5 separate regions of the Homo sapiens genome follow, and regions 2, 3, 4 and 5 are each linked to region 1. Evidence: fine-mapped expression QTL. A gene starts in region 1. Each other region holds a variant in brackets. All regions are shown on one strand. Distances are between the middles of the regions.

The links. PIP is the estimated chance that this variant, and not a neighbour inherited with it, causes the effect.
Region 2: its variant is fine-mapped to the expression of FBLN7 in whole blood (INTERVAL, PIP 0.96).
Region 3: its variant is fine-mapped to the expression of FBLN7 in fibroblasts (GENCORD, PIP 0.95).
Region 4: its variant is fine-mapped to the expression of FBLN7 in whole blood (TOPMed, PIP above 0.99).
Region 5: its variant is fine-mapped to the expression of FBLN7 in whole blood (TOPMed, PIP 0.94).

The regions. Positions count from the first base shown.
Region 1 is chr2:112,136,291-112,141,394 of GRCh38, reverse strand. FBLN7 (fibulin 7) reads right to left here and starts at 3,010. Exons shown (of 8, transcript NM_153214.3): 1 at 2,665-3,010. The coding sequence starts at 2,739. RefSeq lists an enhancer at 480-1,193.
Region 2 is chr2:112,235,605-112,240,708 of GRCh38, reverse strand. It overlaps ZC3H8 (zinc finger CCCH-type containing 8), which reads left to right. Exons shown (of 9, transcript NM_032494.3): 3 at 2,181-2,394; 4 at 4,014-4,147. It also overlaps a transcript of FBLN7 not described here. Among named protein-coding and RNA genes, the nearest start is that of ZC3H8, 17 kb to the left of the region's middle. The variant AT/T (reference allele first, on the strand shown) is at 3,129.
Region 3 is chr2:112,104,991-112,110,094 of GRCh38, reverse strand. It overlaps TMEM87B (transmembrane protein 87B), which reads right to left. Exons shown (of 19, transcript NM_032824.3): 16 at 4,020-4,093; 17 at 2,255-2,307. Among named protein-coding and RNA genes, the nearest start is that of FBLN7, 31 kb to the left of the region's middle. The variant T/C (reference allele first, on the strand shown) is at 2,805.
Region 4 is chr2:112,160,318-112,165,421 of GRCh38, reverse strand. It overlaps FBLN7 (fibulin 7), which reads right to left. Exons shown (of 8, transcript NM_153214.3): 3 at 251-421. Among named protein-coding and RNA genes, the nearest start is that of FBLN7, 24 kb to the right of the region's middle. The variant T/C (reference allele first, on the strand shown) is at 2,150.
Region 5 is chr2:112,185,922-112,191,025 of GRCh38, reverse strand. FBLN7 (fibulin 7) reads right to left here. Exons shown (of 8, transcript NM_153214.3): 8 at 2,808-3,892. The coding sequence ends at 3,520. Among named protein-coding and RNA genes, the nearest start is that of FBLN7, 50 kb to the right of the region's middle. The variant G/A (reference allele first, on the strand shown) is at 2,813.

The DNA.
Region 1 (5,104 bases):
CCAGGAAGTCAGTCTCTGGCCAGGGAGTATGGGCAAGTGTCTGCAGGCAAGGAAGAAATCTTGGAGCCCAACAAGAGAGACTGGGTTTATTCCGCTCATTTCTGGTTGTGTGACCTTGAATACATCTCATCCTCCCTGGGCCTCACTTTCATCATCTGCAAAATGGGGGTAACAGTCCCCACTTCACAGGGTAGCTCCGGGAATGAAGTGACTGGAAGATGCCCTGCAGGGAGCCTGAGGCGCACCAGGCACTCCGTGTGCAGGCTCTCCGCTGCCCACCGCTGTTGGTATTGTGCAGGTAGCGGGGTCGGCAGTCCATGGCCGGGCCCCTCACCCTGGCTTGCCAGGGCTACTCTGCTGGATGTGGGTCCCGGACTCGGCAATTCAAGTTCTCGCCTTAATTTTAAAAATCAGTTGCTAATGGTTAACATAAAAGCGAATCTGGTCAAGTATTAAACAAATAAATCCGGTGAGATTCGAACAAATGCCAACGGCAAGAACAGAAAAATTAAACAGCAAGCCGCCTGTATATGTGTTTAAGAAAATGTAGTCGCACATCCAGGGCCTCGCCGGCTCGGGAAGGGACCGCTTCGGAAACCTCCCGGGCCACCTCTGCCTGGGAAATGCCACAAACTGCTGAGAAAGTCCCGTGAGTGTTCTGATACTTCGGTTGGAAATTTAAATGTCGGAGTTTGGAGGGCGGGGACGTTCTCTAAGCTAATTAGGTGACCTGGAGCTCTCATGGAGACCCAGGAAAGACCAATGTCTCATAGCTCCCTGAGAAATCTTCTTCCTCCCGGCGGTGCTCACGTGGAGTCCTCGCCCACAATGGACCGACGCTTTCGCAGCCCAGCCCGGGTCCTCCCAGGGGCCCGGCCAGCGATGCATCTGAGGTGACAGGTGGGGGACCCTGCACCTCTCTCTGAAAACTGAACCCCAGCCCAGGCATCGCTCCGAGCTCTCAACCCAGGCATCCGAGTGGAAAGTGGCAAGCCCGGGTCCCCCAGCCTTGGTGCTGCCTCCCCTGCGCGCGGGACAGGGGAGAGAGGAAGGAGGGATGCTGGCCTGGAGAGAGGCAGGAGGGACACTGACCTGGAGAGAGGCGGGAGGGACACTGACCTGGAGAGAGGCGGGAGGGACACTGGCGTGGAGAGAGGCGCGCGGGACAGGGGAGAGAGGCGGGAGGGACACTGGCCTGGAGAGAGGCGGGAGGGACGCTGGCCTGGAGAGAGGCGGGAGGGACACTGGCGTGGAGAGAGGCGGGAGGGACACTGGCGTGGAGAGAGGCGGGAGGGACGCTGGCGTGGAGAGAGGCGGGAGGGACGCTGGCGTGGAGAGAGGCGGGAGGGACGCTGGCCTGGAGAGAGGCGGGAGGGACGCTGACCTGGAGAGAGGCGGGAGGGACGCTGGCCTGGAGAGAGGCGGGAGGGACACTGGCGTGGAGAGAGGCGGGAGGGACACTGGCATGGAGAGAGGCGCGCGGGACAGGGGAGAGAGGCGGGAGGGACACTGGCCTGGAGAGAGGCGGGAGGGACACTGGCGTGGAGAGAGGCGGGAGGGACACTGGCCTGGAGAGAGGCGGGAGGGACACTGGCCTGGAGAGAGGCGGGAGGGACACTGGCGTGGAGAGAGGCGGGAGGGACACTGACCTGGAGAGAGGCGGGAGGGACACTGGCGTGGAGAGAGGCGGGAGGGACGCTGGCCTGGAGAGAGGCGGGAGGGACGCTGACCTGGAGAGAGGCGGGAGGGACGCTGGCCTGGAGAGAGGCGGGAGGGACACTAGCCTGGAGAGAGGCGGGAGGGACACTGGCGTGGAGAGAGGCGGGAGGGACGCTGGCCTGGAGAGAGGCGGGAGGGACGCTGACCTGGAGAGAGGCGGGAGGGACGCTGGCCTGGAGAGAGGCGGGAGGGACACTAGCCTGGAGAGAGGCGGGAGGGACACTGACCTGGAGAGAGGCGTGAGGGACACTGGCCTGGAGAGAGGCGGGAGGGACACTGGCCTGGAGAGAGGCGGGAGGGACACTGACCTGGAGAGAGGCGGGAGGGACACTGGCGTGGAGAGAGGCGGGAGGGACGCTGGCCTGGAGAGAGGCGGGAGGGACGCTGACCTGGAGAGAGGCGGGAGGGACGCTGGCCTGGAGAGAGGCGGGAGGGACACTGACCTGGAGAGAGGCGTGAAGGACACTGGCCTGGAGAGAGGCGGGAGGGACACTGGCCTGGAGAGAGGCGGGAGGGACACTGGCGTGGAGAGAGGCGGGAGGGACACTGGCTGGCCTGGAGAGAGGCGGGAGGGACACTGGCCTGGAGAGAGGCGGGAGGGACGCTGACCTGGAGAGAGGCGGGAGGGACGCTGGCCTGGAGAGAGGCGGGAGGGACGCTGACCTGGAGAGAGGCGGGAGGGACGCTGGCCTGGAGAGAGGCGGGAGGGACGCTGGCCTGGAGAGAGGCGGGAGGGACACTGGCGTGGAGAGAGGCGCGCGGGACAGGGGACAGAGGCGGGAGGGACACTGACCTGGAGAGAGGCGGGAGGGACAGGGGAGAGAGGCGGGAGGGACAGGGGAGAGAGGCGGGAGGGACGCTGGCCTGGAGAGAGGCGGGAGGGACACTGGCCTGGAGAGAGGCGGGAGGGACACTGGCCTGGAGAGAGGCGGGAGGGACACTGACCTGGGAAGCCCGCGGCTCGGGGCAGGCGAGGATCAGGAGCAGAAGGAAGAGCGCGCGCGGAGAGCTGGGCACCATCTTGCCAGTCGGAATCCCGCTGCCTGGGAGGGGAAATAACTTTGCCTCCGCTGCCGAGTTTGTCCCAGCGATGCGGCAGCCGTCCCTGCAGGGTGCGGGGCGCCGCGCGGCCGGGGGGCGGCTGGGGCAGGGGGGGAGGCGGGAGGCCCCGAGCGCAGCGCGTCCCGCGGGGATCGGCGCCGCCCGGGCCTTGCGAGGGTCCAGGTGCGCCCGCAGCTGCCCGCACGAGACAGTCCGCGCGAGGCGGGGAGGCGCCGGCCCCTGGGCTAAGGACGAGGGAGGAGGGGCTGCCCGGCCGGGAATGCGCCCGGGAGCGCGCCCAACCCGCGACGCCGAGGACGAGCGCGGGCATCCTCGGGGCCTGGCAGGGATGGGCGGCCAGTGCCCCGCATATGTGCGGGTGACTGGAAGCCCACCCTGGGCGGGTTCACTCCCGACCGTCCTATTTCCCAACCAAGTAGACTGAGGCTCAGTCACCAAGGACAAGTGGCAGAACAGAAACCCAAACCCAGGTCTGTCCTACTTCAAAGCCCACGCGACACCCTCCTCCCGACATTCCTAGAAGGGGGCCAGGAAATGGGCTTCATAAGCTTGACGTGGGGTGGACTGAGCTCTCCATCCGAATAAACTAGTGTCCCTTTAAATAATGCAATGGGGCCGTGAGAACACGCACGCACAGTGAGTAGATACACACACAGTGATACAGTGAGGGGATCTACGTCCTTCTGATTCACTGTCCTCCTTGCTCAAGGGAAGGAGAAACTCAGTTTAAATCGGAGGTCAGGTTCTAGAACATTGCCTGCCTTGCTGAAGTCGAATCAGGAAGTGCCAGGCCGGCATGAGCAGTCTGAAGTCCCCTGCCATCAGGGCTGTGGTACAACCAGATGCCTCAGACCTGAGCTCCCGGAAGGCATGACTGACGTTCTTCCTGGAAGGTTTTCTGAAGGCAGTCACTGCAGATGTCCTGGGACACACAAGTCTGGTCAAGCCCCAGATCTCTTTTTCCTCTTCCACATTTCACTTTGTTGAGCCCACTCAGAGCTCAGGGAACGGGGAGCCCACAAGACTGTGACCACAGAGCAGGAGCTGTTTCCCAGCAGAGGCCAGAAAGGAAAGCTGGAGTCCTGGCTTAGTCCCTTCAAACTGCTATAGCAAAATACCATAAACTGAGTGGCTTATAAACAATAGAACGTGTTTCTCACAGTTCTGGAGACTGGGAGGTCCAAGATCAAGGTGTCAATAGATTAGGTGTTTGGCGAGGGCCAGAGTTCTGGTTCCCGTGTCCTCACAGGGGAAAGGCAGCTCTCTGGGGCCTCTTTTCTGAGGGCACTAATCCCAATTTTGAGGGCTCTGCACTCATGACCTAGTCACCTCCCAAAGGTCCCACCTCCTAATGCCATCATCTTGGGAATGAGGTTTCCAACATATAAATTTAGGGGAGACACCAACATTCAGAACCTAGCCAGTGCCCCAAAAAGCAGGGGACATGGTTTAGGCTGGCCTCCTGGGCATTGGTTGCCCAGGAAATCCTACAGTGCTGCTCCCCCAACCTTCCCATGCAAAGGAGGTGGAACGGGACCCATGTAAATCTTTTTTTTCTTTGAGACGGCGTCTTGCTCTGTTGCCTAGGCTGGAGTGCAGTGGCCTGATCTCAGCTCACTGCAGCCTTGCCTCCCTGGTTCAAGTAATTCTCCTGCCTCAGCCTCCCAAGCAGCTGGGGCTACAGGCATGCACCACCACGCCTAGCTAATTTTTGTATTTTTAGTAGAGACAGGTTTTCACCATGTTGGCCAGGCTTGTCTTGAACTCCTGACCTCAAATGACCCACCCGCCTCAGCCTCCCAAAGTGCTGGGATTATAGGTGTGAGCCACTGCAGCCTGCAAGGGATCCATGTAATTTTATTTTGCATTCCTGGTTGAACATCCTGAAGAGAGACATGGTCATACCCCTGCTTCTCCCTATCCAGGTGGAGAGGACGGGACAGCATGGCCCGATCCAGGGCAGCCTGTGGAGATGGTGGTTTTCTGCCTCGATCTCTCATGTGTTTGCTGTCTGTACCAAAAGCCAGTGCCCTGCTCCCTCTCTGTCTCTCTGTCCTCTGCCCTATCCTTGAAAAGCTTCCTCCTGGTCAGTGTGGCTGCATTTATTAATATTTTGTGTCCTATCCCACCTTGTGTTTACATGGCGACCTTCTCTGGAAGGCCAGCTGTTCTGGCTCTCAGCCTTGTTCTGGCTATGCGCTGGTAACCAGACATCGGGCAGATGTAAGCAAGCCTTCTTTTCTCTTCTCCTGCCCTTTCTGTGGAGTCATAAAGCTGGAAGAGATTCTTGATTTCACAGATGAAGAAGCTGAATCGGGGCATG
Region 2 (5,104 bases), 99 kb before region 1:
TAATATTTATCCCTACTGTATAATAAAACAGCAAAATTGATGATTGTCCTGGCTTTATTAATGTTGCCAGATTGTTTCATGTCTTCATTTAATGTAAGTCCAACGTATTATTACTTGTCGTAAAAGGAGTCTGCTTCAATACTGTAGGCCTATGTGTTTTGTGCAGACAGAGGGAACTTAATCACTCATTTGGATCATTTTAATATTTTGATTCAGATGCACTGAAGAAAATCTCACCTCTATGTATTTGATTAAGCTAAACTTCATAGGAGCTGCTGCATACTGAATAATCTTTTTGGTTCCCCCATGCCTACTAAATAAAATTAAAGGCCAAAACCAAGGTAAACATAATCTATCACAGGAGTCGGCCAACCTTTTCATAAAGGATCAGTTAGTGAATCTTTTCACCTTTGTAGGCCATGTTGTCTCTGTCACAACTAAGACAATATGTAAATGAATGGATGTAATTGGTGTTACAGTAAAACTGTATTTACAGAAACAGGTGGTGAAGCTGAAAATTTGCCAACCCCTGATCTATCAGTCCAGAAGTTACATTTACAAGTTTATTCTATGGTGTTAATGGGGAAAAGGCACTCTTTCTTGAAGACCTAGAGACAAGAAGTTTGGTGGCCTGAAGATAATTGGTTGATAGTCTTGTCTGGTGTAGGGAAGATAAGGTATAATTGAGGCCATTGTCAGATCAAGAAACTTCCTCAGCTTGTTTGGATTCTTTAAGCAGGGAGCAAGTTCATTTTCTAGGCTTATAATCAATCCTCTGGTGGAACAACTCCTAACTTTGAAGTTAACCATCAGAAGTAAACTGTTGCCGGGCATGGTGGCTCATGGCTGTAATCCTAGCACTTTGGGAGGCCGAGGCAGGCGGATCACTTGAGGTCAGCAGTTCAGGACCAGCCTGGCCAATAGGGTGAAACCCTGTCTCTATCAAAAATACAAAAATTAGCTGAGCATGGTGGTGCATGCCTGTAGTCCCAGCTACTCGGGAGGCTGAGGCAAGGGAATCGCTTGAGCCTGGGAGGCAGAGGTTGCAGTGAGCCAAGATCGTGCCACTGCACTCCAGCCTGGGCAATAGAGTGAGAATCCATCAAAAAAAAAAAAAAAAAAAAAAAAAGTAAACTGTTAAATTGGGCCACCTAATATATTTTATAATAGCGATTCTTCTGTTTTGTTTTTTGTCTGTTTGTTTTGAGTTTGCTTCTTAGTTATCATGTGAAAGCAAATAAGAGACCAGGCCCCAAAGTATGCTTTGAAACAAAATCATTATCCACTGTAATGATAGGCATGCCATTTCTTCGTGACATCAGAATAGGAGCCCTTTGATACTTGGTCATTTTTTAAAAATAAACTTTCTGATTAAAATGTGTCATACATACTAATTATAATGATACAGTTTAATATACCTGTGTCACCAAGTGTAGAAACACATGTAACCAATACCTGAAAATTTTTATGCAGAAATTGCTTTAAGTCATTGCTGTCATCAGCCTGGGCTCCTCTAGGATTAGCTCCCATGCCTGGGTTCTTCACCCTTGCCTTGGGCACGTGCAACAACAGAGTTAGGAAACTCTTTCTGCAAGTAAAGTTAACTTGATTACAGAGAATAGGGTAGTTCTTTATTCCTTGTCATCATTGCTGCTACCACTTCTGTGAGTTATAGGAGAAAGACTAGACTTTGGTAGCTTAGATGTATCTTAAGTGTAAGTGGGTTTTCATATGGACCATTACAGTTTACTTGGGGTGTTTTACAAAATGATAAATTATTGAAGACATTTAAAAGTACTGTCAATGCAAAGGCAGAAATGTAATGTGTGAACTGTAATACTGTAATCCTCTCATATCAAATAATTAAGATTTAGGGGTTTAGACTTTTAATTCAGTCAAAGGCACACAATGTACAAATTTAGAATTTTCCCTCAAATCATCTTTAAGGATAGATATGTCATAGTGGTTTGTTAGTTTGTTTTTAATTCTGGAAATTTTTTCTTTTTTTTAATTCTGGAAATTTTCAAATATATGAGTGGAGAGAATAGTATATGAATCCCATGTACCTATTACCCACCTTCAACAATGACCAGTTTATAGCCAATCTTGTTTCTTCTGTATAGCCAGATTGTTTTGAATCATGCTAGGTTTTTAAAATTGAAGTTTTAATTTTTACTTAGTTTAGACACTCTGCAATATCACCAAAAAGTTCGCTGCATAGAAAATCAAGAAGTAAGGACTATGATGTATATAGTGATAATGATATCTGCAGTCAGGAATCAGAAGATAATTTTGCCAAAGAGCTTCAACAGTACATACAAGCCAGAGAAATGGCAAATGCTGCTCAACCTGAAGAATCTACAAAGAAAGAAGGAGTAAAAGATACCCCACAGGGTAAGAGTCAAACTATTTTATCATTTAAAGTTTATCTAGAGAAGCAGTCACAGTTGTCCATATACGGACAGAGGATTTTTCTTTGCACTTTATCTTATGATAAGACTATGGTTTTCATGAATATTTATACCAGACATGAGCTTGCATGGCCAGAGACCCCATCTGAGACCTGGCCACTTGGTGCATTAAATGCTTAGTTTGTAGAGGGAGCTGGAGGATGGAGGTGGGTTATCAAAGGCCCTGACTATTTCTAAAGGGAGAATGCTAAAGCCCTGGCCTCTGCATGTGTGAAGGATAGGATATGCCTGCTTGTATTGCTGTCATTTAAAGAGGATTGACTGGAATGGTTGTATGTCAGACTGTAACTCAGAAATATATTCTTCTAGATTACTAAAATGAGATTTAGCCATAAATATGAGGGCAAATGGCAATTATAAATGAAATTTTTGGCCAGGCATGGTGGCTCACGCCTGTAATCCCAGCACTTTGGAAGGCCGAGGCTGGTGGATCACTTGAGGTCAGGAGTTCGAGACCAGCCTGGCCAACATGGTGAAACCTAAAAATAAAAAAAAGTATCAGGGTATGGTGGCACATGCCTGTAATCCCAGCTACCCTGGAGGCTGAGGCACGAGAATCACTTGAGCCTAGGAGGCAGAGGTTGCAGTGAGCCGAGATCACACAGTGCACTCCAACCTGGACAACAGAGCGAGACTCTGTCTCAAAAAAAAAAAAAA[AT/T]TAAAATTTTAATGCTGTCATTTTTTTGTTGTTTTCTTTACTTAAAATGGATCTGTATTGCTTGAGCCCAGGAGTTCGAGGCTCCAGTAGACTATGATTATGCCATTGCAGGATAGATGGATAAATGCGTGCACGGATAGATAAATAAATAAAAACTTGATCTATTTAAAATGTTTTCAGTGAAAAATCTGACAGTAATTTATGAGGTCATTGTAAACACTTAAAGTTTTACTGTTGCAGTTCCTAATTAGATCCATCATACTCTGAACACTTCAAAAGGATCTGCCTTAGAACTTATAAGACTGATTTTATTATCTTGCTTTTTTCTTGACAATACCTTATATATTTTTAAAAACAATGAATGGGGAATCCAGGATGTATTATCATAATTCTCTTTTTGGTCCCTTAGTCCCAGAGCTTCTAGGAAAACTGATCACTATCATGCCAGTTTTCACTTATTGAGCCTTAGAGAACTTTCCTCAATTATTGTAAATCATACTTCTTTTTTCCATTTGTTTTGCGACAGGTTCTCACTCTGTTGCCCAGGCTGGAGTGCAGCAGTGCAGTCATAGCTCACTGTAACCTTGAACACCTTGGCTCAAGCAATCCTCCTGCCTTAGCCTATAGTCCCAGAGTAGCTGGACTACAGGCGTGCACCACCACACCCAGCTATGTTTTTGTAGAGACAAGATCTCTAGGCTGCCTAGGCTGGCCTTGAACACTTAGGCTGGCCTTGAACTCCTAGCTTTGAGCAGTCCTCCTGCCTCAGCCTCCCAAAGAGCTGGGATTACAGACATGAGCCACTGCACCTGGCCCCGTACTTCTTAAAAGTAAACTGCTATTGTAACTTTATGTCATTTTTTAAATTAATTTTTTGTTTTTAGCTGCTAAACAAAAAAATAAAAATCTTAAAGCTGGTCACAAGAATGGCAAACAGAAGAAAATGAAGCGAAAATGGCCTGGCCCTGGAAACAAAGGATCAAATGCTTTGCTGAGGAACAGCGGCTCACAGGAAGAGGTATTGGAATATATGCTTCTAGGAATACCTGACCCCTGCATGCTTTTGGACTTGATCTTATACTTCAGTGACAAGAAGTGCTATGTGATATGGAGAGGTGGAAGCATCCCACAGAATCGGTTTTCGGATGAAGATGTCCTTTTACTGTCACTGGGTTCTCTGTGTTCTTCCTTCTTATTGCAGCTTTCTTTTTCTCACTGATTAGCTGCCAGCACCACTTTTAAGCCTTAGCGTTCTCACTGTTGTTCCTGAATATATGCACACAAGCTCCTTGATTTTTTTTATTATTGTTATACATATATTTTTTTGAGACAGAGTCTCGCCTTGTAACCCAGGCTGGTGCGATCTCGGCTCACTGCAAGCTCCGCCTCTCGGGTTCAAGTGATTCTTCTGCCTCAGCCTCCTGAGTAGCTGGGACTACAGGCGCCCGCCACCATGCCCGGCTAATTTTTGTATTTTTAGTAGAGACAGGGTTTCGCCATGTTGGCCAGGATGGTCTTGAACTCCTGACCTCAGGTGATCCACCTGCCTCGGCTCCCACCACCCACCACCTCCCTAAGTGCTGGGATTACAGGCATGAGCCACTGTGCCTGGTCACTCCTTGATTTTTTTTTTTTTTTTTTTTAGTGTTATACTATCAATGACTCGGGAAAAATGGGAAGCCCAGAGAAGATCAAATAGTCATGAGGCATTTCAAAGGCCACTGAGTCTTACAAATTTTTTACTACTAAAGTCCCTCATCCTGGCTCCCTCTGGAAATTAAAAATCAATATTTCTGAGCATTGGCCTTACTGAATCTCCCCACTCCCCACCTTCCTGTATTTTGATTTTGGTTTTTAGAAGTTCCCTTTCCTTGGTCTGTAGATGTAAGCAGGGTAGAATAATAAGTACCTCTTCTGGATTCCACTTTTCTGAGGGCTTTTAACTGGATGGCAACTTTTTTTATTAGGCTTGGTC
Region 3 (5,104 bases), 31 kb after region 1:
CTGGACCAAAATGTCAAAAATAAGTAGCTAGCCGGGTACAGTGGCTCATGCCTGTAATCCTAGCACTTTGGAAGGCCGAGGCAGATGGATCACCTGAGGTCAGGAGTTCGAGGCCAGCCTGGCCAACATGGTGAAACCCCGTCTCTACTAAAAATACAAAATTAGCTGGGTGTGGTGGCGCCTGCCTGTAATCCCAGCTACCCAGGAGGCTGAGGCAGAAGAATCACTGGAACTTGGGAGGCAGAGGCTGCAGTGAGCTGAGATTACGCCACTGCACTGCACTCCACCCTGGGTGAAAGAGCAAGACTCCGTCTCAAAAAAAAAAAAAAAAAAAAGTAGCTGAAGGCACTGGAAAATGACCATGGGACATGGATCTGAGAAGCTCAACAAATTCCAAGGAGGATAGACAAAAAAAAAAAAAAAAAAAAAAGACCATACTTAGGCATATCATAAACACAATGCAGAAAGCCAAATATAAAGGAAAAATCAGAAAAACAGCAAAAGATAAATGTCACATCACACACATGAGAACAATACAATTAATGACTACTTTCTCCTCAAAAACAACAAAAGCCAGAAGATATTGGAAAGACATGTTGGAAGTGCTCAAACAAAAGTCAATCAAGATTTCTATATCCAGCAAAACTATCCTTTAAAAAGGAAGGAAAAGTAAATACATTTTCACATAAATAAAATTGAGAGAATTTGTTGTCAGCAGACCTATCCTATAAGAAATATTAAAGAAAGACCTATAGGAGGAAGGTCTTAGCTCATATATAGAGGAAAGAAAGAAGAAAAAGTAAATACATGGGAAATATAAAAGAATATATACACCCATATTTTCCTTTTCTGACTGCTAAAATAAAAAAGTATAACAGTGTATTGTTAGTTTCATAATGAATAGGCAGTTCTTACTTTGCACAGACTATTTATACATTAATTTCAGTTATCACAGTTTAGTTAAATAACACTAGTCCCCCAACAAGACAGTTTGAATTCCATAGTTAAATATATTTAACACTAGTCCCCAGCAAGGCAGTTTGCATTCCAGTAACTCATAAATGCGATGACATATCACTTCATAGTCACTAAGAGCTAAAATCAAAAAGGTGGACAATAATAAGTGTTAACAAAAAGTTTGGAGAAGTTGGAACCCTCATATATTGCTGATAGGATTATAAAATAATGCAGCTGCTTTGAAAAACAGCTTGGCACTTCCTCAAAATGTTAAACATAGAGTTACCATATGATCTAGCAATTCCACTTTAGGTATACAGCCAAGAGAAATGAAAATATATGCCCACACAAACCTAGAATTATCATATTCATAATGACGAAAACTAAAGATAAAGTTAAAATCCTGAAGGCAGACAATTCCCCAGCCCTTCTCACCCAAAAAAACCTCAACCCACACAAACAAAACCCATATAACATGTGGAGGAACACAGATAAGAACTAAAGCAGACATCTTTCTGAAACTATGAAAGCCAGAAGACATTCAAGTGACCAACCTTTTAAGTGTTGAAAGAAAAAAAAGGTCAACAAAGAATTCTATTCCCACAAAAATTTCTTCAATAAAGGTGAAACAAAGACTTTTTCAGACAAACAAAAATCTGACAGATTCACTACCAGCATACCTGCACTACAAGAAAGAAATGTAAAGGCAATTCTTCAGGCAAAAGGAATATCATAGTACACAGAAGCTATCTAAACAGAAACCAGATGGGGGCTAGGGAGGGAAAGACCAATATGTAAAAAAATTTTATCATACTTGGCTATTCTATTTTTCACTATGGAAACAGCTATCTGGAATTCTTGTGTCAAACAGAACATAGATAAAGAGGATCCTGAATAGCTCAAAGTTTCCAGAGGGGATTCCTATACTCATGTTTTTCCTCCAAAAGCCTCCTCACAATACATGGTGCTGTGGTTACCTTTAAAAAAAAAAAGTTTACATACATTTGACGTTTTCCATAATAGATAAAAAATGAAATGATCCTGATAATGGCAGATCAGAAAAAGCTAGAGTTGGTTAGAGGCCACTAGTTTTAAAATGGTTGCTGTATCGTGAAAAACAAAACAAGCCAGGGTTTTGTTTTCTTTGCAGTTCTGTAAGGGCCATGTACTGGTGATAGGGGCTTACCCAAGTACATGCAAGTACGAGGTTTGAAAAGCACATGACAAAGGATGAGAACGATCCCTTTTAAACTACAGCCTAAAATTTACAATCAAACTGTAACAGAAGATAACTTACACATCTGTGAATGAAGAGGGAATATTTTCTTCTACCCACTTCAAATCTTCATCCTGTAGAAATATTTATACTTAGCATTTGCTTAATATCACCTGACAGCAGAATTTTTAAAACAGAATATATATATAACTTAAGTGTTTAAATGTAAATATTTGACATTCTTTTAGTTTCTACATATGTCCTAAGTTGGCACTCATGCCATACAGAAATTATGCCACTGTTTTCTTACACACGCAAAAATTAGATTTCAGATTTCTACACTTCTTGGTTTTAGTTGGATGTATGAAATATTATTTTTTTTGTCCTGAGAAATCACAGTAAAAACACAAAGTTCATTTGTAAGATAGAAAATAGCAAGGATATTGAATTTTTGCTTTGCCACACTCATTATGCCTCCTAATTTGTTCTAGTTCTTATATAATGAGTTTATAACTTTAAAAAAAATGATGATAATACAAACATTCTTTTTTTTTTTTTTTTTTTGAGACAGAGTCTGACTCTGTCGCCCAGGCTGGAGTGCAGCGGTGTGATCTTGGCTCACTGCAACCTC[T/C]GCCTCCCAGGTTCAAGCAATTCTCCTGTTTCAGCCTCCCGAGTAGCTGGGATGACAGGCACATGCCACCACATCCGCCTACTTTTTGTAATTTTAGTAGAGATGGGGTTTCACCATGTTGCCCAGGCTGGTCTCGAACTCCTGAGCTCAAGCGATCTGCCTGCCTCAGCCTCCCAAAGTGCTGGGATTACAGGCATTAGCCACCGGGCCTGATCTCAAATATTCTAACTTTAGAAAAGCCTATTTATTTGTATCACTCATTTATGCTCATCTCCCTACAGGAGGCAAGAAAAGGAAAGCAGGTCAGCTGAGATAGCTATCTGTCTATGTCTGTCTATCTTATCTAACTACCTATCTATCTATTTTATCCATCCATCTATCCTTTCTATCCATCCCTCCAGTCTATGTTATCCATCTTGTTTATTTATCCATCTGTCTAATCTATTAGAGAATCTGCCAAATCTAACAGATAAAAAATGTCTTCACATATTATCTATCGTGTCAGAACTTATATATGCATACATAAATTTTTACATAGTATTAATCACAGCACATATAGTTATAAGGAAAGTATAAAACTATATGATAGACATTTCCATTTTACATTGTTGTCTTCAAAAACATTTTTATGCATAAATAACATGCAGAAAATATTTTTTAGCTCATCTCTGCCCAATGTTTTACAATTTTATTCAAGCTTCCCACCTCAAAAAAAAAAAAAATCTGTTAATTTTGGTAACCGTGTAGGTAACACATAAAGTTCTTTACCAACAGATAACAAATGTTATTTTAAAATGGCTTCAAAAATCACTTTCATAGGCTGAAAAGTTAACACAAGCTTTTATTGGAACAAAGCTTTCCCATCTCGAATGTGCAGATGAACAGGCTATGGAATCTTTTCAAAAAGCAGATTCCAATTCAGGAGCGTCCGGGGTAGGCCTGAGACTCTGCATCTCTAACAAGTTCCCAGATGATGCTCATGCTGCTGGCCTAGGAACAGCAGGTGAGAAGTGAGATCTACAATGAAGGTATTTCAGTTATGGACAACCAGGATTGCTACTTGGCACTTGGCAACACTAATTTTTATAACAACAACAACAAAATCTTAGTAAAAACTGTTCTTCTGAGAGTCAATGAATATGACACTCGTATAGCTCTCTAAAGTAGTGAAGACTAAGGAAGACTAAGATTGTACTAAATATATACCATACTCACAAAGTTCTCAGAAGTGGCAGGCTTAGCTGTTCCATTGGAAACTGATTTTGAGGCTCTTAATTTTATTCCTTCGGCTACGAGAGACATTATAAACATATATATAAAATCACAAAATAATATTTTCCTTTAGAAATTTAATAATCTGATAAGAAAAAATACTATATCTTTTTAGAAATGGAGGGTTAATAATGGAAACTTTAGGCAGGATGCTGGATTTACCATTTGGGAATGTAGGAAAAATATATGAAAAAAGTTCACAGATTTTTGGAAACTATTTGTCAGAACCACCAGGTTTTCAAGTTTCTTGTTTGAATCCTAGTTTTAGAGTTTAAACAAGTATACATGCATACATATTTCCTTAATTGCAATTATTTTAAAGTTTATGGATTTAAAAATCTTCAGGATTCATGGTACATTCAAGAACAAAACACATCTTTGGGTATGCTTTACATCCCTGATGTACAAATTTTGAAATGTGCGTATGGCATAAAGAAGATAGGAAAGATCAAGATTTCTTTCATATTTGACCAAGGCTCTTCTGCATGTTTGCAGTTTCAGTGGAGCAAAGGCTAAGTGTCTGCCTCACTGGAATCTTGGGCAAGGCAATTAACTTCCTGTGACTTAGTGTTTCTGACTATAAACTGGGGATAATAATAATTTCTACCTCATAGAGTTCTAGTGACCATTGAACAAGTTAGCACATATAAAATGCCTGACACACAATCTATGCCCAGTAAGTAGTCACTTTTGTTATTACACTAATTTGCAAATATTGCTTCTCCATAAACTAGAACAATTATAACATAAGCTGATGTAATAAATAAAAATGAGGTTCCTCAATCCAAAAATGTTTTCCTGGGACATTCAAAACCCCAACATTTCTCTTAGAAGGGGAATACAGTGATTTTTGAACACTGAAGCGTGTGTGTGTGTATATATATATATATTACAAATTTTAAGTGTACAGTCTGAAGAAACCTGACAAATATATACACTTGAGTAACTGCCATGCCAATCAATACAGTTAACATTTCCATTATCACAGAAGGTTCTTTAAGTTCCTTTCTGGTCAATCCCCACCTCAC
Region 4 (5,104 bases), 24 kb before region 1:
TGTGCCTCAGTTTCCCCATATGCAAAACAAGACTAAATTATTGTGAAGATATAGTGAGCTCATACAGATAGAGACCAGCGCCAACCTGGCATGGAGGTGAGTGATCAGGCACATTGGCTGCTGTTCTGTGGTTGAGGAATGATTAAAGAACCAAGCAGAAAATGTTCCAAGGAATGACCCTTTCTATGCAAGAAACCCTTGCTATACTGTGATGGGTCCAGCGCAGTGGGATGGGAAGGAGAGACGATACCTCTACAGTGGGGCTGCTCCCCTGTCCAGGTGCCATTGGGAAGACACACCACGCTGCTGGGCCCGACCAGCCGGAACCCAGGGTTGCAGGTAAAATGGACTTCGTGATCCACTAAGTACTTGCTTCCAAACTTTCTGCCGTCTGCGGGGGTGTTCAGAGCCGGGCAGGAAACTGTAAGGAGAGATGGAAGGATTACGAGCTCCTCATCCTGGACCACAGCCCTTAGACATTACTGAATTACAGGACTTCCCATCTCGAAGTGCCCTCTGTTGCATGCCTGCTGCAGGCTGTGCACTGTGCTGGTCATTCTGCATGCTGCGTCTCATCAAGTCCTCAAAGCTCTCTTGGGGATGGGTGGTACGATGCCTGCTTAGCAAAAGGTGATGAGACTGGGGCTCAGAGACACTAAGTGCTGTGTGCAAGGCCTCGAAGCGTGGGAGGCCCACCCTGCAATGATCCGCTTCATCACTGCCACCTACTCACTCTGATTTTCTGGGGCTCCAGCCCCCCTGGGTTTCTTTAGGTCTCCTGAACAGGCCGGGCTCAGCCCCAGCTCCAGGCCTGGGATTTTGCTCTTCTCTCTGCCTGGAATGTTCTTTCCTCAGAGCTTCCACAACTGGCTCCTTCTCACTCTCCAGGTTTCCACTCATATGCCACCACCTCCCCGCGTGTTCCCTGGCCACCGTGCCTAACCCAGACCTCCCCAGACACTCTTCCCCAGGTGCTCACTCTGCTGTCTTCTCAGTATCTGTAACCATCCGAACTTTCTTATTGACTTGCCTCTTTCTAGATATGCGGTCAGTCCTCTCCATCAGAATGCATCTGGCCTATGTTCCTGTGTATCCCCAGCACCAGCCCACTGCCTGGCACATAGTGAATACTGGATAAATCATAAATCATTCTTGAACAAATGAATGAATGGAGCCTTATTTATTGCATCTTTACTATGTGCCAGGCACTATATTAGGGACTTAGGCAGGCACTATATTAGGGACTTGGGCTATATCCATGAACAAAATAGACAAAACCCAACCCTCAGGAAGCCCACCATCTAGCAGGGGAGATAATAAGCAATGGCGAAGTGTGGGGCCATGTAGAAAATGAAAGCAGGGAATGATGCTGGAGATGCTGGAGAGAGGGCATCATTTTGAATACAGTGGTCAGGGCAGGCCTCACCAGAACGAGTTGAAGGTGAAGGCACAGCCAGACAGATGTCTGGGGAGGGCAGAGGGACAGCTGGTCAAACATCCTGAGGTGGGGATGTGCCTGGCAGGTCTGAGGAATGTCAAGGAGGCAACAGGACTGGAATAGAGTGGACGAGGTGGAAAGTAGTTAGACATGAGTCAGGCAACAGGATCAAGACAGCTCAGAGTTACACGGGGCATTGGAAAGAAAACAAAAAGGCCATGCAACTTGTTCTCCGTGTGAGACCGGGCCTCTGGAGGTCTCTCTCAGCAGCACTCCTGCTGCGGTTTGATTGTGAAGTGCCCGTACAAGAGGAAGGGGAGGGAAGCTCAGGCCAGGGTAGTAGCTGAGCATGAGGGACATGGTTCGAATCCTGGCTGCTCTGTGAAGATTTCCCGAAGGACTGATGTGGTTGGAGAGAGACGGGGTGAAGCTAGCCTGTTCCTCTTCTTTTTGCAACAGAGCATCACGCATGGGCGACGAGGGAATGCCCAAAGTTAGGATGGCTTGGATTTGGATTCAGTTTAGATGGAAATTCAGAGCCACTTCTAAAATGCATTTAAGGTAAATTCCAAGTGTCATTTGCCATGTTCATATTTTAAACAGGCACAAACAGAACTGTTGCTTCAACTGTGCAGGTCAAAGCAAGTGACAGAGTCACTGAGCATCCCCCATGAGGATGCACTGATCAGGGGTGTCCTGGACCAGAGGCCA[T/C]TAAGGAGCGTGATGGGCCTCCCTGTCCAGGAGTGCAGCTGGCAGGATGGTGTAGCCCTGCCCAAAATCCCACCTGGGCCGGACACAACCTAGGGTTCTTTGAGGAGCAGCCGTGGCAGCCTGAGCTGGGGCGGAGGGAGGTGCCGGACCCTCCGAGGATGCTCGGTGGCCTTTGGTGATTGGGGAATATCTGCCCATTGCTGCATCGCCTTCCTTGAGTAAAGCTCCAAGTTGGCCCCCAGTGGTAATAACCTTGTGAGTAGCAAGCGAGTGAGAGCTCACATCCCAGGACTCGGCTGCTCCCGGGGTTCTGCCTCAGCCTCTGAAATAAATTACTTTATAGTTCTTTTTTTTTACATCTAGTACTTTATTGCGTTAAAGAGTTTTAAAATGCATTGGGGGAAAATAGTAGGGTCTCTTTGGGGATGAAAAATCTTTAAAAACCTCGACAAAAGAAAACTACCTGCAACTCACAAATACACCATACCTGAATAGATTGAACAGTATCTGGCACTTAATAGATGCTTAATAAATGTGAATGGAGTGGATTAATGGATACAAATTAATTAAAAATCAATTTGTAGTCACATCCCAAATGGGAGCTGAAGGCCCTTCTCTAGTGACAGAAGGGGAACGTGTCCTTTGGTTGATTCTGTTGGCGAGAAGCACATCCTACTGAGTGTGCAGAGCCACAGCGAAGCTCCCTGCGCCTTCCGAGGTGAAGTTAGCATGTAAGGAGTGAGACCCACAGTTAAGCAGTCTCAGCAACATGGGGACATGAATCCGCTGAGGCTGCTCTGGATGAACCCTGAAGCTGATGGGTTGTGATGATGCACCCAGGAAACAGGAGGGAGGTACTTCATATGGAAGCCAGAGAGGAAGACCAAGAATTCTCCAGAACTGGAAATTATTCTTCCTGACTCCCAGCAAATTCCCTTAAAAAAAAAAAAAAAAGGCAAAACAGGCCTGGCACAGGAGCACCCGCCTGTAATCCCAGCACTTTGCGAAGCTGAGGCTGGAGGATCGCTTGAGCCTGGGAGTTCAAGATCAGCTTGGGCAACATAGTGAGACCCCATCTTTACAAAATTTTCAAAATCAGGTGCAGTGGTGTGCACCTGTAATCCTAGCTACCTAGGAGGCTGAGGTGAGAGGATCGCTTGAGCCTGGGAGGCTGCAGTGAACTAGGATCACTCCACTGCTCTCCAGCCTGGGTGACAGAGCGAGACCTTGTCTCTCTTTTAAAAAGCAATAAGGTAGTTTTCCCACTATGTGCCATTTGATCTGGGCAGGTGTCTGGCTTTCCTCCAGGTGCGGGCCCAACCCCCACCACACCCTGAAAAGGGATCCTGACAGCTGCCTGTCCTCTGCAGGGCTGTCACAGGATCAGCCTCTGCACGCATAAAGTACCCAGCACGGGGTCCCCCACACACTTAGAAATACAATACATGATGGCGATTTTTTAAAAAGAGAATTTGGCACTTTAAAAAATGTTGTACATTTCAGAGATGAAAGCCCCTGAATCTTGGGAAGGAGGATGAATAATGTAATAATAACTGCCTTTCTATCTGTCTAGCGGGCAGGGCCCTCTCACATGGGCAGGGCCCTCTCACATGGGCAGGGGAATTGTATAACATTCCCTGTGGGCTCCACTGAAACTCCCAGGGACCGCAGGCAGCTCTGACCCCATGAAAACAAGGAAGGCTTTGTGGAGTCAGGCCTTGACCGCTAACTTACTTGTCTTGGCCTCAGTTTCCCCATCTGAGGCAGGAAGGAAAGACACCCTGCCTGCACCATGGAGTTGGGGTGTGTGGAGCCCCAGTGAGGGCTTGGGCCTCACAGTGCCTTGGAAAGTGTGAGGCTTGGCTGGTGGTTATTTCTGCAGCTGTGGAGCCAAGGAAAACAGGAACGGACTCAGTGCCGTTGAGAGCTGGATTTGCCACCATCATCTCCGAGAAGGTAGGAAATCCAACGCCTTCCCCAGGAAACTTCAACTCACTCAACAAAGACAGCCCTTGATAAATGTGTCTGCAGTGAGTAAATGATGTCAGATATTCCACAGGCTCCTGACTTTGAATGAACATGATGACTGGCCCCTGTCCCCCAGCACCCTAAGACACCGGAGGAAAACCAGCCGCCCATCTCTGGGTCTTGGCGGTGTGAAAGCTGTTACAGGGCAAGCATGAAAAAGTGCCCTTGTGTCTGTCAGAGTCCTGCCCTCATGGGAGGGAGTCTGGGGTGTCGGCTGTAGCCTCATCAGACAAGTGGAACTTGTCCTCAGCAGCCCTTCCCTCCCAACCGTCCTGGTACTAACGGGGACTCCCTGGAGGGTGCACTTTCACGCCTGAAGCACTGGAGCCAACCTTGGTCATGGACTGGAACCAGTGTATTGCACTGGCTCGGGCTGAGTGTGTGTGTGTGTGTGTGCGCGTGTGCGTGCGTGTATGCGTGCTTGTGTGTGCGTGTGTGTGCGTGCGTGTGTGCGTGTGCGTGCGTGTGCGTCTGCGTGTGCGTGCGTGTGTGCGTGCGCGTGTGTGCGTGTGCGTGCGTGTGCGCGTGCTTGTGTGTGTGCGTGCGTGTGTGCGTGTGCGTGCGTCTGCGTGTGCGTGTGCGTGCGCGTGTGCGTGCGCGTGTGTGTGCACGCACAGAGGGTGTGGAGGAACGCAGTGCTTTCCACTCAACTCTGCTATGAACTTAAAACTGCTCTAAAAAATTATCTTAAAGTAAAATCAAAAATGAAAACAAAACCAAAACTGGATCCAACTTGTGGACGGGGAAGGGAAAAGCAGTGCGTGATCTAAAAGTGGCGCCTTGCAACAGTTTGGTCCGTATGAAGACGTGATAGTTGTTAAGGCCAGAATGAAAAGGCTGAAGAAGAAAAGGGGTGACATTGAGGCTGAGGGAGAAGAAAGGGGGCAGCTGCCTTTCTAATGTGCTCCCCCCACCCCCACTGCCACC
Region 5 (5,104 bases), 50 kb before region 1:
ACTCTGAGTGACACAGAGAGACCCTGTCCCTATGCCAGTTCTCCCCTCTAACTAACAAAAAACCCACAGTAGTCCTGAATTAAATTGGAAGTATCAGCATGAACTCATGTAGTGTTTTATCTTAAAAAATACTAATAATACATATTTCCTAGCTCTAGCCACTAAAGCCAAGAAACTATGATGTAACCACTACCAATGAGCACTCTGAGCACTCAGACCTTGATGTCTAATTACCATCCCCCACTAGAAGGAACCAGGGATTACTGGGAGAAAACAGCTGATTTCAGGGCAGGGGCAGAAAATATACAGGATGAAAAAGACTACTAGGGTCATGTCAAAAGGAATCAGCCACCTCGAAGCAGCTCCCAAGAACCAAAGATAGAACAATTTGAGCAAAAACAAAGACAGTAGCTGTAATTACTATTAATACAGATGATAACACACATGATAACATCAGATATGTTTCAACCATGAGTTCATAATGTACTCAAAGAAGAAAACAACTCTCACAGGGCATGTTGGAAAGATGCCTGTGAACCATCTCATTTTGAAAACTGAAAAATAAAGGGAGGAAAGCCAAGAATCAATCCTACTTTTCTTATACAAACCAAATCTCAGGGTAACCAAATAACTGATGAGAGTGTGTTTCTCTTTATAAAGTATGTCAGCTAATAAACAAAGAAAAAATCAATAGCACTAGAATATTAATTGCAATCCCTACAGAAGTAATGGATCTGTGCAATCTGCGGGGGCTAACATCAGAAAAGAGAGGCAACCAGATATTTTGCTCCTCCTACTGGAAGCATCTGTCACCACCAATAAAGTAGTCTTGCCTAAATAAATCTAACTTGAATCTGACTAACTCTCTAGATTTATAAGAAATAGAGAAGACAGAGATGCACTCAGAAAAACTCATACTGTGAAAAATTCTACAATATAAATGACCCTATATTTTGTCTTCCAACAAACCTTCAGATTATTCCAATATATGCTGAAGTGTGAGACCCACTGCTACAGATTAAAAAAAGGCTTAAAATGCATATCAATAAATCACAGTGCATAGACCTACTGCAAGTAAACAAAAAAATATAAGCCACTCAGAGAAATGTCAACGATGGCTGAATATTTAAAGGTATTAAGGAATTAATGTTTTAGATGTGAATGGCATTTTGGTTATCCTTTTTTTAAAAGTTGTCTTTTAGAGATACATTCTAAAATATTTATAGATGAAATGATAGGATTGGGAATCATCATGAGGTGGGGTGATAGCAGATGAAACAAGTTGGCCATGTGTTCATTGTTGAAGCTACTGATTCAGACATGGGGTTCATTATACTATTCTTTCTACTTTTGCATATGTTTGCAACTTTGCATGATAAAAAGTCTTAAAGCCCCTCCCTCAAATAATATGAAACTATATTACCTGGAAAGGGGTGCAAATGAATTCTGGTTAACCAGTAGTTACTCTTAGTACAGAGTGGAGCTCTGAAAGGACAAAAGAAAAGTTGATTCCATAGAGGAGAGTGAGGAGAGAGCATATAGAGAACAAGACACTCCACAGGGAGAAGTGCCCAGCCATTATCCACAAAAGACCCATCATCCACATCATCCACAAGAAGTGCCCAGCCATCATTGTCCACAGCCATCATCCACATCCTAAGCAGTCAGCCATTTGTACTTTGGTGCTGTGGGCACCGGGGCTGGGTGCGTGATTTCATCAGTGGGAAGCAGGTTTGATGACGGCAGATCTTGGTGATGGAAATTGTTGCTTTAAACTGGGCTGTTTGGCATCAAAGCCCTATCATATACCAGTTTAGAGGGCACCTGCTCTGGAGACTCCCCAAACACTCCCCACCTTCTGGCATGTGAGAGGCTTGTCCCCCTGAACACATCATATCTCAATATATCCCACATATATCCCACATCATATGTCATCATATCTCACATATGATGTGTGTGATGTGTGGGCTGTCCCTAGCCCACAGCTGTGACATCTCCCATTCAGGAACCTGGCCAGGCCCTTAGACTCTTCCGCCTGGTGTTGTGCACATGGGACTGGGTGGTGTGCAGGCTTCTGGCCCAGCATAGCTACATTTAGAAACATAAGGCTGTGGATAATGTTTTAATGAAGTCTTGTAACTTTAGTTTGCATGTCCTTTTTCTGTTGTTAGAGATCGCAGCTGAGCCCATGGGAGAAGAAACATTTCAAAAGCAACTCTTGACTGTGTCTCAACCTTTGTCCAAACAACAGTACAAGAATAAACCATCTTAGAAACCATCTTGATGTAGGGCTTGATCATTGAACTAGTGACACACTTCTGGCTCCATCTCATACCAGGGCAAATACAAAGATTTAAATAAAATATGTGTGAGGAAATCTCACCAGCAGCTTGACATGTAATTAGATAATGAAACTTTCTTACAGCTTCGCTACCTCTTAAGTTTTAGCTTGAATGATCTTCCCCACCCTACCCCATACCCCATCCTACCACACCCCACTCAGCTCTGGCCAGTGTTTTCTCTCTTTGATCACCTGGAGGGCGTCACCCTGTAGTGAATTCATCAGAAACAAAAGGCCATGGAATCTATGACAACTCAAGCATTTTCCTAAACTCTCCACGGCCAGGTATTGTCCTTACCAATCTCCCATGTGGTCAAAACAAATTTATAATGTGGAACAGTCCCAAACATCACCTCTGTGTTCTCTGACTCATTTATTCCAGTGTATCCAACCCAGACAGGAAGAGAGTCAGCCACCCCCTCCTAGAAGGAAGTGGGCTGTCTCATGCTCAGGTAGAAGTCAGGCGGGCAG[G/A]AAGGAGCAATCACTTTTATTTTTTCAGTTATATTACCAGGTTATGTATTTGAGATATGATTTCTCAAAAGGGAAGTAACTCAGGCAGAATCCATGCTTTTAACAATGGGTCCTTGGTCTAGAAGGATCTGCGTGGGGTTTAAGGCCCTCCTGTGACTCTCTGATGAGAAGGCAGGCAGGCAGGCATGTCACAGAGGAAAAGGCAGATAAGAACAACGTGCTGGGTCATGGGAGGAGACTCCACTTCCTATGCCACATGCGCAGAGGCATGACTAGGGCCCCCCGCACGACTAGAACCGTTTCATTCATAGCAAGCCTGGCTACAAAAAGGCAGAAGGGCTGATAGTCACCTGACACACATTGCCACCTTTTCTCTCCCCAGCTAGTTCAAACTCACAAGGCCATTTGCACAGCATTTTGGAAAGCCACCCATCCCCTGGATGAAAAAGTTTTAAGAAAGTTAGTGCATAATCTAAGGGAAGGGCCTCAAAGCAGAAAAAAAAAAAGAGTGATGGCAGCAGTTGAGTTTTGTGGCTGCTCTTCCGTGCTATTCCATGGGGCGCCGTGCAACGCTGCCCTAGAAGCCTGGGTGCACTGGTGAGAGGGCGGGAACAGGCGGGAGGCTCCACGCAGTCGGTGCCCGAAGCTGAGCCTTCGGGGAAGAGAAATGAGGTCAGCTCTCCACACCCCAGTGCCCCTGTGTACCCTCAGAAGTCATAGGGGGATACAAAGATGGTGACCTTGGACACGTGGTTGGCCTGGAAGGAGCGGTCCAGGTATTCCGACATGTCGACGTCCACCTCCAGCGTCTGAGGCCCCTCCAGGTTCTGCACAAGGATCAGATCCCCAGTCTGCCGGTCTGAACGCTGCATCACAAAGTGGCCGCGGCTGTTCCCACCCACGATCCCAAACCGCAGGCTGTTGGGCCCAGCTCGGCCGGGGGCAGAGGCTGTGGCCATGCGGAAGAGCGTGATGGGCGTCTTCAGGTTGGAAGGCAGAGAGAGGTAATGGAAGGAGATGGTCTTGGGCAGATGGCGGCAGGGCCTGCTGTCCATGGGGCAGGGGTTCCGCTCACACTGGCTGGAGCGGAGAGGCAAAATGGAGGCAGTCAGCCTTGGGGAGTCTCATGAAGAGCTGCTCTGACCCGGCTGCCCACCTGCCCTCTTGCAGAGGCCACCTAGATGACCTTTCCCAGCCACGGGTCCTTCACCCAGGAGCTATGGAGCTGTGGACGAGTGAATGTAGCTGGTGTCAGGCATGGCAAAGGAAGGGCTGCTGCTTCTGTTCCTGCTCAAGGGTGCTCCCTGCCCACCTGTGTACGTGTGTATGTGTGTGCACATACATTTATTTATGCTATTACTATCATTTTTACAGAAAAATATAGCCTGGGAATATTAAATAACAATGGCAATGCTGATATTCAAACCAGGTGCCCTTTCTCCATGTGCTGCGACCTCGCCCAGTAATGGCAGGACCTCAGCAGTTAGCCAGCAACATCCTGTAATGCAGTGCTTCCCACACGGTGTACGGTGAACTTCCTAAACACAGCAGCATGTATTTTATTTATTTATTTTTAGACAGAGTCTCACTCTGTCGCCCAGGCTGGAGTGCAATGGCATGATCTAGGCTCTCTGCAACCTCCACCTCCCAGGCTCAAGTGATTCTCCTGTCTCAGCCTCCTGGGTAGCTGGGATTACAGGTGCCCACCACCACGCCCAGCTAATTTTTGTATTTTTAGTAGAGACGGGGTTTCACCATGCTGGCCAGGCTGGTCTCGAACTCCTGATCTCAAGGGATCCGCCCTCCTCGGCCTCCCAGAGTGCTCGAATTATAAGCATAAGCCACTGTGCCTGGCCATCACGTGTATTCTCAACGCAGGAAGCCCTGTTTTCCTTAATCATTTGGAAAGAGGGTCTTGTGGAAATGCTTTCGATATTTCTCTATGTTGTTAAAAGACAAATGCAATCTAGTATATTTGGCGATTCTGTAGCATCATGATTATGCAGTCAACTGTCACATCCAGCTGTTGGTCGAATGCCCCAGAGGCCGTCATAGACCCGTTCCCTATCCCTTCACCGAGTGACTTCATGAGGAAGGTTCTGATGTCTTCACTCTCTCTAAAAACTGCCATGCTTCAGTGCCACTAAGTTTCTTGCTGCTTCTAATCTGCTTTAACTCAACAGCAATTCAAATAATTAAGTTACCCTCCATGGCTGTTACTTCATTTTAAAGACAACGCTAGGGCTCTTGTGATCTCTTTTTGAGAGGAAAATGTATGTGCTTTGTGATAGT